Homo sapiens: one gene and its partner. The protein of the gene in region 1 interacts with the protein of each later gene in a biochemical or structural test. Each region holds a gene or a part of one and is shown on either strand. Other genes may lie near its edges.

What was found. Proteins that work in one complex are often made in the same cells at the same time.
Region 2: the proteins of WBP11 (region 1) and PQBP1 form a complex in vitro, tested with the Homo sapiens proteins (2 studies listed by BioGRID and IntAct, with this or other methods).

The regions. Positions count from the first base shown.
Region 1 is NC_000012.12:14,798,987-14,808,938, forward strand, and holds the start of WBP11 (WW domain-binding protein 11), read right to left. Parts: upstream 4,493-9,952; 5' UTR 4,366-4,492; intron 2,443-4,365; 5' UTR 2,398-2,442; coding exon 2,334-2,397; intron 1,798-2,333; coding exon 1,766-1,797; intron 743-1,765; coding exon 649-742; intron 1-648. Other genes in the region: SMCO3 (single-pass membrane and coiled-coil domain-containing protein 3), read right to left, coding at 7,017-7,694. UniProt on the Homo sapiens protein: Activates pre-mRNA splicing. May inhibit PP1 phosphatase activity.
Region 2 is NC_000023.11:48,900,930-48,903,643, forward strand, and holds the end of PQBP1 (polyglutamine-binding protein 1), read left to right. Parts: intron 1-260; coding exon 261-372; intron 373-1,000; coding exon 1,001-1,113; intron 1,114-1,303; coding exon 1,304-1,588; intron 1,589-1,802; coding exon 1,803-1,866; intron 1,867-1,998; coding exon 1,999-2,155; 3' UTR 2,156-2,214; downstream 2,215-2,714. UniProt on the Homo sapiens protein: Intrinsically disordered protein that acts as a scaffold, and which is involved in different processes, such as pre-mRNA splicing, transcription regulation, innate immunity and neuron development.

The DNA.
Region 1 (9,952 bases):
CAACATCAATGATTTTCAAACTTAGATGCAAAAAAAGATAACATGCAGCTATTTCATGTGATTCCAGTTATAACAAAGCAGCGATACTTAAAATGCATATGAAGAGTGAATAAAACTATTCTATAAAATGTGAAAAAGGCAGAGAATCCTGGTATAGTATTTTATTATTTGGTTTTTAGGTATTTGATGATTTTTTTCTATATCCTTACTAAATGGATAAGTATCTTTTTGGATCTTCTGATTGGAAAAATTGGAAATTGCCTTATATTCACAGGGGCCTAATACTTAGATTTACATGGTAGTTGCCAACATTAAATAAAAGACGACAAACAAAAAACCCAAGGTTATTTCATAAATCAGATTAAGTCTTCTCCCAAAAAGCAAGCTGGCCAAACTGTGCTTCTGTTATCTCACAATAACAATTAACTGAAAGCCAAATAATCGCTTCCCTCTTATTCTGGTATCTGGGGTCTCCAGTTTGCAACAGCCCTCTAGCACTCCATTTTGTCTCCCTGAAACTAACATTAAATCCAAGCATCAAATGCCATCATGCTGTTCTGTTTTACTTACGCCTATGCTGCTTCACTCGTTACCTGCCTGCCTCTGTACGTGTCAGACTGTTATAGCTGCCTGTTTGTAAATTCTTACCCATTTCATCCAATTTCTCCATGTCTCGGATTATCTGTTTTGGATCCTTCATCTTTAAAACTGCAGCTCGAACCATCATGCGCTGTTTTTTGTTCTTAGAAAAATAAAAGGGCAGATGTCAAGAAGTCAGGCACTCAGGAGTTTTACTTCAACTTGCTTTAAGAATCTAAACAGAATAACTCCTTGGCTTCTGATCACTTGTTTCAACCACCAGAAACAGCTATGTAATTTTTTGCCTTAAAAATGTTTACACTTGTCAAAAAGATAAAGAAATGCTATTTTTAAGATGTGCTTTCTTAGTAAAGTATTTCTTTGAACTCTGAGATCTTTAGCAGTTACTTAAACACACATACACTTTAAATTTCTTTTTTTTAACCCCTTATGTTCTTGAAGACCTTGGGTGATTGTTCCTGCCCCCTGTTGTAAAACCTCTGCTAGTTGAAGTCCAAAGCAAAGGTTGAAGCTAAATTCTAAAATTATATAAAGAATATTTAAAAATTTTGCAGGAGTTAATGCTAAACATGAAAACACAATCGAACATTATTTAAAATCTGTGTTGCTTCAATGTATTATACTATAATACTATAAAGCACAATACTATAAGGCAAATCCTTTCTAATTCTTTTGAAGTACTTTGCCACAAATTCAACAGCTAAGAGGAGAATGCTAATTGGGAAAATGGATATATAAATCTAATATATCTATAAATATTATAAACCTACATATATATATTTAAGCTAATGTAATATATGTAATAGACAGCTAATCAGGAAAATGGATAAAGCTATCTAGCATCATGTTTATTTCCATCCTCATCAGTAGACTTTAAAACAGTTATGTTTTAATGAGTAAAAAAAAGAATTATTTTCAAAAGTATTTTTTAACTCACTGGGAAAAGTAATCAAACAATGGCATTATAACCTGTAGTGAGCTTCTCTGCAAAGTTACTTCAGTTCCTAAATAAAGTTTGGCTTAGTATATCTTACAGTTTTTATAAAAAGCATAAAGTACCTTTTCTAGAAAATATTAGAAATGTTATTCTGAAACCCACTAATCCCAAATCACAAGATGTACCAAACAATACTTAAAGTTTTATAAGATGCCTCTAAAATCATACCTTCTTTAATTCTCTCTTCCGGGCTTCCTTTCCTTTAAAAGGAGAGAGGGAGATATAATAAAATCTTTGAATCTTGAACATTAGCATTTCCTCCAATTTAATACAGGTAATTCTTTATTGTGGAAAGTTACAGTATGCACTGTAAAAGAGCAGCATCTTTGGATTCTCTCCACTACATGCCAAGAGCATCCCTCTAATTATGACAACCAAAAATGTCAAGACATTTTTGTTTAATGTTTCATAAAAAACAACTATGAATCTGAAGGAAAAACATAACATAAAACGCGAAACAAGGGCTCGCAAAACTAATTTGCTCAAAATTTCCAATATAAAAAGAAAGATTTCAGCCAATTCTACTTTGCAAGTCAATCAAATTTGAAAAATAAAATACGGGTACTAATTTCTTTGCATATTTAAAGTCTTAATGTGCCCATACAAACCCTGAATATATAATTTATTCCTCCTATCACTGCTGGTCTTGTAATTAAGCCACAGAGAAAGAAATTCCCTAATATTTGCAATTTTTAACACTCTCCTACTTCATCATTCCACACTAATGGACACTTACGGGCTTGGTCTGTGGGGTTCATAAATTTTCCACTCTTGGTGGATGATGTAGATCTCCGTCCCATGTTGACAATTTGTATGGTTTACTTGTTCATTAAAAAAAGAAAAACCTGTGAAGGTGAAGACAAAGAAATAGCTTATATCTCCTAAATGTATTTCTTCCTTTTTCTAGTCCCTACCAATCTCTGAAAAAAAATTCCTTTAATTAGAAATTCTGTGAGACTGTTCTTTCCTTAGTTTTGACTTTAATGTCCAAGAAAGATGGCATCACCTTTCTTGACCATGAAAATTTAGATCTCTATCATTCTTCAGAAATGTGATGAGTGTGAAGACCACTTTGAATATCCTCAAGTCATCAGTTTAGCTTTTTTCTTATGGATCACAGCACTGACTTTGTCAACTGATAAAAACAACTAGAAAATGCTTTAACGATATGGCACAAACCATGAACATCAGAATTCATTAGTCCTTCTTCTATAACCTCCCTTTATTAACATGTAATTGTAAAAGAAGAATAAGAAGGGAATGGGGGTAATGGATCTAGGCTCAAAACACATACCTCACCTTTGCCTCTCTCCATGGTTTTTCTTGGCATGTATGCTGTACATTCTCAATACTTCTAAGACACTAAAAACTCATTAATTTAAGCATATTTAATTCAGATTCAGTTCTAGTTCAGATATAATGCTTGACTCTCAAGAGTTCAAAACACAACTAAAAATGCAAATATTTGAAATTAGTGCTATACTGAGAGCTCCCCAAAACTTAAATATTAAGACACATATTTTTCTTACTAAGACCTGACTCCCAATATATATTTCTTAAGGTAATTAAAGGGAATACTTATTTTTGTTTGAGGAAAAAATATTTTGTAAGCTAAAACTTTTATTAACACAGTACCCTATTACATGACTTCTTCCTCTTATTCCAAAATAATGGGGCTTAATTTTTTGAAGCGCAGTCTTTCCAGTAATAAAGGCGGACAAATTTGCTTCCTTTTGCAAGTAGACACTTTTTAAAGGTAAGAAAGGGAAGATTTTGTCAGCCCAGTTTATTACAGTTAATGTCTCTTTCACCAAGTGTCCAACTGCCCCGAAAGCCAGATGTTTCAGAAAGCCAGATGTTTCACAGCTGTTCTGGTGGCAATTACTTCAAGACAGCGGTATCAAAGGCTCTGATTTTTAGCTTCCTCATCTAAAAAATGGGGACATCAATTACTTTATAACAAAGCTCTGATGATACAATGAGATTACAAATAAAATATCCTGTGATGTTTGACTCACTACTTAACTAAAATCTTTATAATGGATCCATATTCCTGGCCTAGCTACCATACACCCTGTCAAGTGGTTTCCTTCTAAGAAAAACTGGGGATGGGGGGGTTAGGGGGGTGGGAGAGCAGCAGGGAGTAGGAGGTAGGGAAGGAGGAAAACAAGCAAAATCAGTACATATACAAGCTCTCCCATCTTTGATTGCCTGCGTTTTTTGTGCTTTCCTTTCTCAAGTTTCCTCAGGCTCATGTTCTGAATCTCCTCCCCCACAAATGAAACACAACGGATACGAATTACAGAGAATTTTACGGAAGACACTGGAGCTTAAGTCTGCAGATTAGTTTTTTGTCTACAAGCGGAGGCGACTGGAAAATCAAGCCAAATAAGCGTTGGATAACTCTAAACAGCCAAAGAAGCTTCAATGGGATAGGGTCCAGGTTCACCAAAGGAGGCAACACCAGCAACTGACGAAACCATAGCGACGGCTGACCGACCATGACTCGAGGTACAAGACGTCAAACCTAAGGCTACTAATCAACGTGCGTAAGAAGCGGCCCCAACCGACCCGGGCGATGCCAACCGCGCAACCACTGGTCGCCGCGCCACCCCAGGCCCAGGAATAGCCCAGTCCGCAACAGGGAGACCTCAACCAGGGAGAGGAGGAGCGGGGCAAAGGGGCTGGGTGTCCCCCAAGCCGCTGCGCGGGACGTGGAAGGGACGAAAGAGGTGAGGAAGAGTAGTAAATCAATTCAATACACTCACACTTCTGCTGTGCTCCCAGGACTACGAGAAGCGGGTAGGGGGCGACTCCCGGCCTCTTTCACTTCGTAAAGGCCTTCAACTGGGTCTCTCGGTCAACCCCTCAGCTACCGCCATCTTGAAACCTCGCGCCCCTCCGCACTCCTCACGTCATTTCCCATTCCTCTGTCCCGCCTTCTCTTAGCGCCGCTTGACCCTGGAACCATAGAGAATACCCAAGAATTCCAGGACCAGAGTCTCTTCCGGTTCCATACAATACTCAATTGGTTGGTTGTCGGCTAAGAGCCCGCCTCATTGCGCTCATCTAGTACAATAGGAATTAGAAGAAGATAGCTGCTAACTGAGTGGCTGACGGTCCTGTCTCTCGAGTTGGAGGCATCTTGACTTAGTTGCTGGGAGCCTGGTACGTTGAGCCGTCCGAGAACGGTACATTCTGCAGATAAAGAAGCGTTCTGCGTTTTCTGTCTTTTGGAATTACCTTAGTTTTTGCATTTTTCTGTTTCTTATGACCCAAGCAGGTGCGATCCTTTAGGGGTGTCTCCGTGTGTAAACGAATACCCAGATAACATTTGCCACTGAGTTTAATCCGCTTTGTAAGCATCAGGTTATCCCATGTGAGCGCCTAGTACGTGTGGAAATTTAATAGACAGGCAGAACAGAACGTTTGTAGACCACCTGAACAAATAAATTAGCACCCGTATTAGAGTCGCAGATTGCTTATATGGGCGGTGATTTATTATTTGTTAGTAGTGTTTTGAAGAAGAAATACGGGGATACATATGCAGTCGGTTTTAAGTTATATGAGTGGCAAGGTTGATATATATTGGCTATATTCCCGACTGGTCTTTTCACCAGCCAAAAGTCCTCTATGATGTCACTCTACGTACGGGATTCTTCACTTAACTCTAGCCTTCGCCCTTTCCCTACCTTCTATCCCCTCTTTCCGTGAGTCAGCCCCCACTTATTTCCCTTAAAGGTAAGTTTAAACATTTAAAAAACTATCTTAGAGGATACGCTTGGTTATTTCTAATCTTAACCTGACTATCCCATGTAGGAAGGCTATTCTTACCACCAGTTATAAATATTTCAAAATATTGATGGAGATACATACTAATTTTTAGCAGAATCTTTAAACTGCCCTTGAAGGTATAAGATCGGTCCTATACCTAAACTTACCTTTGTGTTAGGAAATTCTTGATTTGATTTTAGACTGAATTTGAGTGTCAGAAAGCAATGACGAGATATTGTAGGTTAAAGCTGATAAACCAGGTAGTACATAAAAAAGAAAATAATCTTGAACTGCGAAGGTGAGCTAAGTTGTAATGTTTTGCAACTAGTTTTTTTTCTTTCCTAACACATTAGTGATCATAGTTTTGCAACTCGTTTTGAAAAACAATGCAAGAAGAGAAAGAGAAAACAGTGTATGTTGGAAATATTAAAGTCTTTCATGTAGCTAAAATTTTATATGTAGCTACTATTTTTAAGATATGCTGAGCAGTTTTTATTTCAATACATTTCTTGTACTTGGATGGGAGAATCAACTATAACAAACACAGTCTGGCATCAACAGCATATTAATAATTTTGTCAGTATAGACTAAAAGAGTCCTCATGGGAATTATTGGTTGGCAAAGGATTTAGAAAACAAACACATCTGCAGAGATTCAGCGGAACCATTAATAGGCTTCCATAGCCTTTGGCGTTTTCTAAAATCAGGTAATTAGTGAAATGGCCCACCTAATGCGTCATGTAGCAAAGGCAGCTGCCTCCTTTTTGCTAGTGTTGAAAATGAAATTATATTCTTTTTTCTGAAAGCTTATAATAAATTATGACTTTCTTTTAAATGACAAATGCTTTGAGTAGTGACCTTCTATTCTGCATCCTAAATGCAATATGTGTAGCTGTGTTTTGCTTTCTTGTCTTCTAAATGTTTCAGTGTTTGAACATTCACTTGAGCGATATTTAATTATCACAGTTGGTCAGGGTTGATTGCAGTGACTGAAACAGGACCTTGATGTTTTTAGTTTTGATTTTTACCATTTTCAAATCCATCCGGTTTACATTGTGTAATCAGTAGACGTTTACAGATCAGCTTCCTGTCCTAATTGAAGCACATTGTTACAAACCATTTTTCAGTCTCTTCTAGTTTACAGAAAACCAGATTTACTCTGATGGTCAAAAATATGGTAGTATTTCTGTCTCATTCGAAGGCCTAGAGTTTGTGTCTAGGCAGAAGTTACTGAGTATGTCCCCTTATAACTAAATGATGTTTGAAGCTGGTGGTAGAAATGAAAGTCTCTGCATTCAATGTGAAATTTAAGAATTTTACTGAAATTAGAAAAGAGAAAAGTAACCCCTATACTTGCTACTCTACGATAGCATTTACCCCAATGTTGATCTGGTAGAGCAGGGTGTGAAAACATCCAGGGAGAAAATTTTTTTACCTCACAGGGTCTAGCATCAGCTGATCCAGGCATTGTTGACTCAAAACTCATCTAGTCATCTAGTCTTGGCATCTCCAGTTTCCCTCTCCAAATTGTTTATCTTATTTAAGTCCATATTGGAAGCCTATAGAAAATGAACCTAATCAAAGAAGCAAACACTGTTACTGAAAAGGAAGCAGAAAAACACTTCAGTGGCAAATAAAACGGCTGTTCATTTCATTTGGTGTTTCACTGTATTGATGACCTCAGTAATGGCATGATTATATTTTTCTGAGGCTGATTTGAACTCCACCAGATGCTTCTCATAACTTTTGATGGCTGCTTGAAGCTGTGTTTTTTCCACTGCTCCCAGGATGGCACGGACAATCATATCTATGCCAAGGCCAAGAACAGCAACTCCAATACTACCAAGGAGAGAAGCACCAATTTGAGCTAACACAGTGACCAACTTGTTAATTATGCCAGTTGTGACATTTGAGCCCACAAGTTTAACAGCGACTGCACTGGCTGCAGATGTAGCTTCTCCCAGGATGACCGAAATAACCTTTTGCACTATTGCAATTTTGTCTGTTTCCTTTTCCTTAATATCCTGAAGTTTTCTATAGAGGGTTGGCTCTAGCTTATCTTTTAGTGCTTCATCAACCTTCTGCAATTCCTTTTGGATTTTCATAATGGCTTGGATGATGAGGTCACAGTTTTCTTTGATGGTCCCATCTCTTTTCATCTCAATGGAGGCCAGCCTGCACCCCAAGTGCATATTTAGAACCTCAGTCAGCTTATTGGTGACATCGAAGCTGTCAGATAAGCAATCAAGAAGCTGCTGGTGAAGACGATTTACTTCTTCCCGCCTTTTTGGGTTCTCTGGGTAAAGGAAGTCACTTTGGGCCATATTTCCAATATGATCGCTGAAAAATAAAATGGTAAATTTTTACTGAAAGTCTTAAAAAATGTCTGCTAACTGTGTAGAAGGGACTAGGAAATCTTTTTCTTCATGCATAGCAAAGAAGCAAGATGCTGTCTAAGGATAATTCCTCAGAACACTCAACAAGTTTTTTTAAAAGAGGGAGTATCGCTGTGTCACCCAGGCTGGAGTGCAGTGGTGCGATCTCAGCTCACTGCAACCTCTGCCTCCCAGGCTCTAGCAATTCTCCTGCCTCAGCCTCCCGAGTAGCTGGGATTACAGGCATACACTGCCATGCCCAGCTAGATTTTTGTATTTTAGTAGAGACAGGGTTTCATCATGTTGCCCAGGCTGGTCTCCAACTCCTGACCTCAGGTAATCCACCTGCCTTGGCCTCCCAAAGTGCTAGGATTACAGGCGTGAGCCACTGTGCCCGCCCTCAGCAGGTTCTTTAAAACAGTTATTTTTATGAAATTTGGAGTCAGTGTATGGAAAGTGTAGGCAACAGAATACAACCCTTTGATGGATAAATTAAGTTATTAGATTTTGTGGTGGTGAGAAATATTCATCGTTTGTCAAGCATCTGTTTATTAATAAGCGTGATTATTTCTAGGTAATATTTAATAACTTTTATTTGAAACAGACCCCAATTTGAAATGCTTAGCTCTTGATTACTAGTGCTCCTTAGTTTCCCGAACCCCTAGTCACCACATTGACCACACCTACCAGACTGATTTCTCTAGCATTTGGAGTTAAACTCTAGTCAGGGCCAGATAAATATTAACATCTCTAAATTTACAGGGCTGTTTTTTGTATTTCAATACTTGGTTATTTTAACTTAAAATATTCAAGTCACTTTATATATCTCTACAGGCAAGTTATTTGTTTTCTAAACCTAAAGGATATCCAAAGGCAACATGTATATCATGCTAGAATCTTTAACAAATTTTTTCTTGTGATAAGAGTATATATTCAAGACTCTTTGGATTAAAATTTCATGTGGGGAGAAGGTAGGCACTATACAGGGCACAGTGTTAATCAGATAATCATGTGATTATTCTCCATTTGCAAAGCTTATAAATTAAATTATTTAGAATAGTCTAAATAGTATCGCACTTGGGCATTATTTAGATAAACTAGAGTGAACGTCAGAAAAAAAATGCCATTTTACAAAAGTATTAAAGAATAAGGGGCCGGGCATGGTGGCTCAGGCCTGTAATCCCAGCACTTTGGGAGGCCCAGGCAGGTGAATAACTTGAGGCCAGGAGTTCAAGACCAGCCTGGCCAACACAGCGAAACCCCATCTCTACTAAAAATACAAAAATTAGTTGGGTGTGGTGGTGCATGCCTGTAATCCCAGCTACTCTGGAGACTGAGGCAGGAGAATCACTTGAACACGGAGGTGGAGGTTGCAGTGAGCCAAGATGGTGCCACTGCACTCCAGCCTGGGCAACAGAGCGAGACTTTGTCTCAAAAAAAAAAAAAGTACTGAGAGTACATCATAGAATGAATAAAATAAACTTGACAAGAGACTTCAGTGTTTGTCCTTTTGGCCTACAGTACCTAACAGTCATGCTCTTCTGTGTTTATTTGGGTGAAAAATCTAAATTTGAGCCAGTAAGAGCACGATGCTACTCAATATGCATACTTTGAGTAGCCTTCCTATGTGGCTGGTACTTTTTTTTTTTAAATTACACTCTTGAGAGAAAAGAGAGAAAAAATGGAGTTCTTTATCCATATCCATGTGGAATCTGGCACAGCCTCTTTTTGAGTAAATAATATCGTAATTAATTTGGACCGTATGTCTTCTAGCACTACGGTTCTTATTCTGCTTAAGGGGAACCTCAGAAGTATGGAATGTAGGAATGAAGATTTTTTTCTTTCAAGAAAGTAAACCTGAAAATAACCTATCCTCCAAATCGTATGGATATAAGTTGGCAACGGAAAAGAGAAAATTTTTCTGAAATGGTTTAGGAACATAAATAACCATGTATGTTGTTAGATTTAGAAAAATGCACTGGAACCTCCTGGTAAAATAAACTACCATGGTCAGAAATTAATTTTTATCCTTGATTCAAATCCAGCACACATACACATATATACAGGCATGCACACATGTAACAGACACACATTTCCACAAAACAATACTTAGAAAATTTCCTAATCCAATTCCCTTTAAAGAAATTGCTTGTTGATGATCCAGTAAATATTCTCTAAACTTACAATGGGTTGGAAACTGTAATTTG
Region 2 (2,714 bases), on another chromosome or scaffold:
AAACCAGATAGCTTTGGCTAACAGTAGAACTCATCATCTGAACCCAGACACAGATTTAGGTAACCTTTTTTTGTAAACCTCCTAATATAGAGAGTTGGATTTGGAATGTGAAAGATACTTCATATTCTTCCCGGCACACACACACACGTGTCTTTTATGTGTGGCTTGTGTGAATGTGAGTGCGTGTCTCTAGGCTCTACATGTAGGATGAGGTCCCCTGGTCCTTATCTGCTCTCCTCATCCCCACCTTGTTCTACCAGAACCAGAGGAAGAGATCATTGCCGAGGACTATGACGATGATCCTGTGGACTACGAGGCCACCAGGTTGGAGGGCCTACCACCAAGCTGGTACAAGGTGTTCGACCCTTCCTGGTGAGCCTGGGTGAGGGGGAGCTAACTTCTGGCTTCACCCTTCCTGTGCTGACCTTGGTTGTGAGGTTTAGGGGGACACAAGGGAGGGAGCCTCGGGTGGAGGGTGTTGGCATTAGGTATCTGCAGGACTCAAGTTGCTGCCTGCTGGGGCCTGGCTCCTCTGGGGTTGGAAGACTGTCTTTTCTCTCTTTTTTGAAACGGAGTTTCACTCTTGTAGCCCGGGCTGGAGTGCAATGGTGTGATCTCGGCTTATGGCAACCTCCGCCTCGTGGGTTCAAGCGATTCTCCTGTCTCAGCCTCCCAGGTAGCTGGGATTACAGGTGCACACCACCACACCCAGCTAATTTTTGTATTTTTTGTAGAGATGGGGTTTCATCATATTGGTCAGGCTGGTCCCGAACTCCTGACCTCAGGTGATCCGCCTGCCTCGGCCTCCCAAAGTGCTGGGATTACAGGCATGAGCCACCACGCCCAGCTGACAGTGTTTTCTCTTCAGGAGAAGAGATTCTGGGGATCCTGCCTGTGGGGTCCTGACATGGGGCAGGTATAGGCAGAGACTGGGGAGACAAGAGTTGAGGATCCAAGGCAAGGACATCTGTGCTGACACTTCTTTCCTGCGGCCCCACAGCGGGCTCCCTTACTACTGGAATGCAGACACAGACCTTGTATCCTGGCTCTCCCCACATGACCCCAACTCCGTGGTTACCAAATCGGCCAAGAAGCTCAGAAGCAGTAATGCAGGTGAGTTGGCAGGTACAAGCGTGCCTTGAGTGATCTTAGCAGTTCTCACGGAGAGGCCAAGTAGAATGATAGTGGATCAGAGGGGCAGGTGAGACCAGGCGGGCCCAGCCTCAGGCAAGGGAGGTTGTTGAAGGCAGAGGCTGCTGGGTCCTGGGGTGGCAAGAGGTCACTTCAAGACTTGTGTCCCCAGATGCTGAAGAAAAGTTGGACCGGAGCCATGACAAGTCGGACAGGGGCCATGACAAGTCGGACCGCAGCCATGAGAAACTAGACAGGGGCCACGACAAGTCAGACCGGGGCCACGACAAGTCTGACAGGGATCGAGAGCGTGGCTATGACAAGGTAGACAGAGAGAGAGAGCGAGACAGGGAACGGGATCGGGACCGCGGGTATGACAAGGCAGACCGGGAAGAGGGCAAAGAACGGCGCCACCATCGCCGGGAGGAGCTGGCTCCCTATCCCAAGAGCAAGAAGGGTAAGCTGGGCAGAATGGGGCTCGGTGAGACCAACAAGGTGCAGGGTGCACTGCGTGAGGAAGCCTTCCCTCAAAAAGATGCCTGGACCTGGGGCTAGAGGAGGGTGCTGTGGTACATGGCAGCCAGGGGCTTCATTTCTTCTTGTGGGGTGGGGCTCAGTGATCAGGGGATCCTGGTGCCTCTATTGAAGACTTTGCCCTGCCACTTCCACAGCAGTAAGCCGAAAGGATGAAGAGTTAGACCCCATGGACCCTAGCTCATACTCAGACGCCCCCCGGTAAGTGACAACCCCTCTTGACTCAGTACGTGGACACCATCCTCCGGCCTCCTTCCTCCATTCCTCATTGGGACCAGGTGGGCTGTGTCCGCCACATCACCCATCCCCATCCCCTGACTCTTTCACCGGCAGGGGCACGTGGTCAACAGGACTCCCCAAGCGGAATGAGGCCAAGACTGGCGCTGACACCACAGCAGCTGGGCCCCTCTTCCAGCAGCGGCCGTATCCATCCCCAGGGGCTGTGCTCCGGGCCAATGCAGAGGCCTCCCGAACCAAGCAGCAGGATTGAAGCTTCGGCCTCCCTGGCCCTGGGTTAAAATAAAAGCTTTCTGGTGATCCTGCCCACCATACCTGAGTGCTTCCTTTGAGGCTGCCCAACCCAAGTCGGCAAGATACACAACACATTTTATTTGCAAAAACTCAGCTAAGAGATAGTGTGGAGCTGGCAGGGGCTGGGGGGCTGAGCTGAGGTGGGTCATGAGAGAGCTTAGTCATGTTGGCCCTGGGTGGGGCAGGGGTGGTGGGGACAGGGAGTCCAGTGTCTACCTCACTCTACCCCTAATACTGATCAGAGTTTGGTCCCAGCTGGGCCAAGGGCAAGAAGAGAGAACGAGGCCAGGCCAATGTCTTCAATCCCAGCGGCTAGGAACCCTTCACCTTGGTGAGCAACCTGTGGTGGGAATGGGGAGGAAAGAAAAACACAAAGCTGGGCTAGGCTGGCAGGCGGGTTTCCTGAGCAAGTGAGGGCGGCGGTGGTGAGGCTGGTAGTCCTGGGGTTAGTAATGGTGCCCACCTGGTCAGAAAGCTACACGTGGACTAAATAAATACAACATCTTTATTTGGCATTG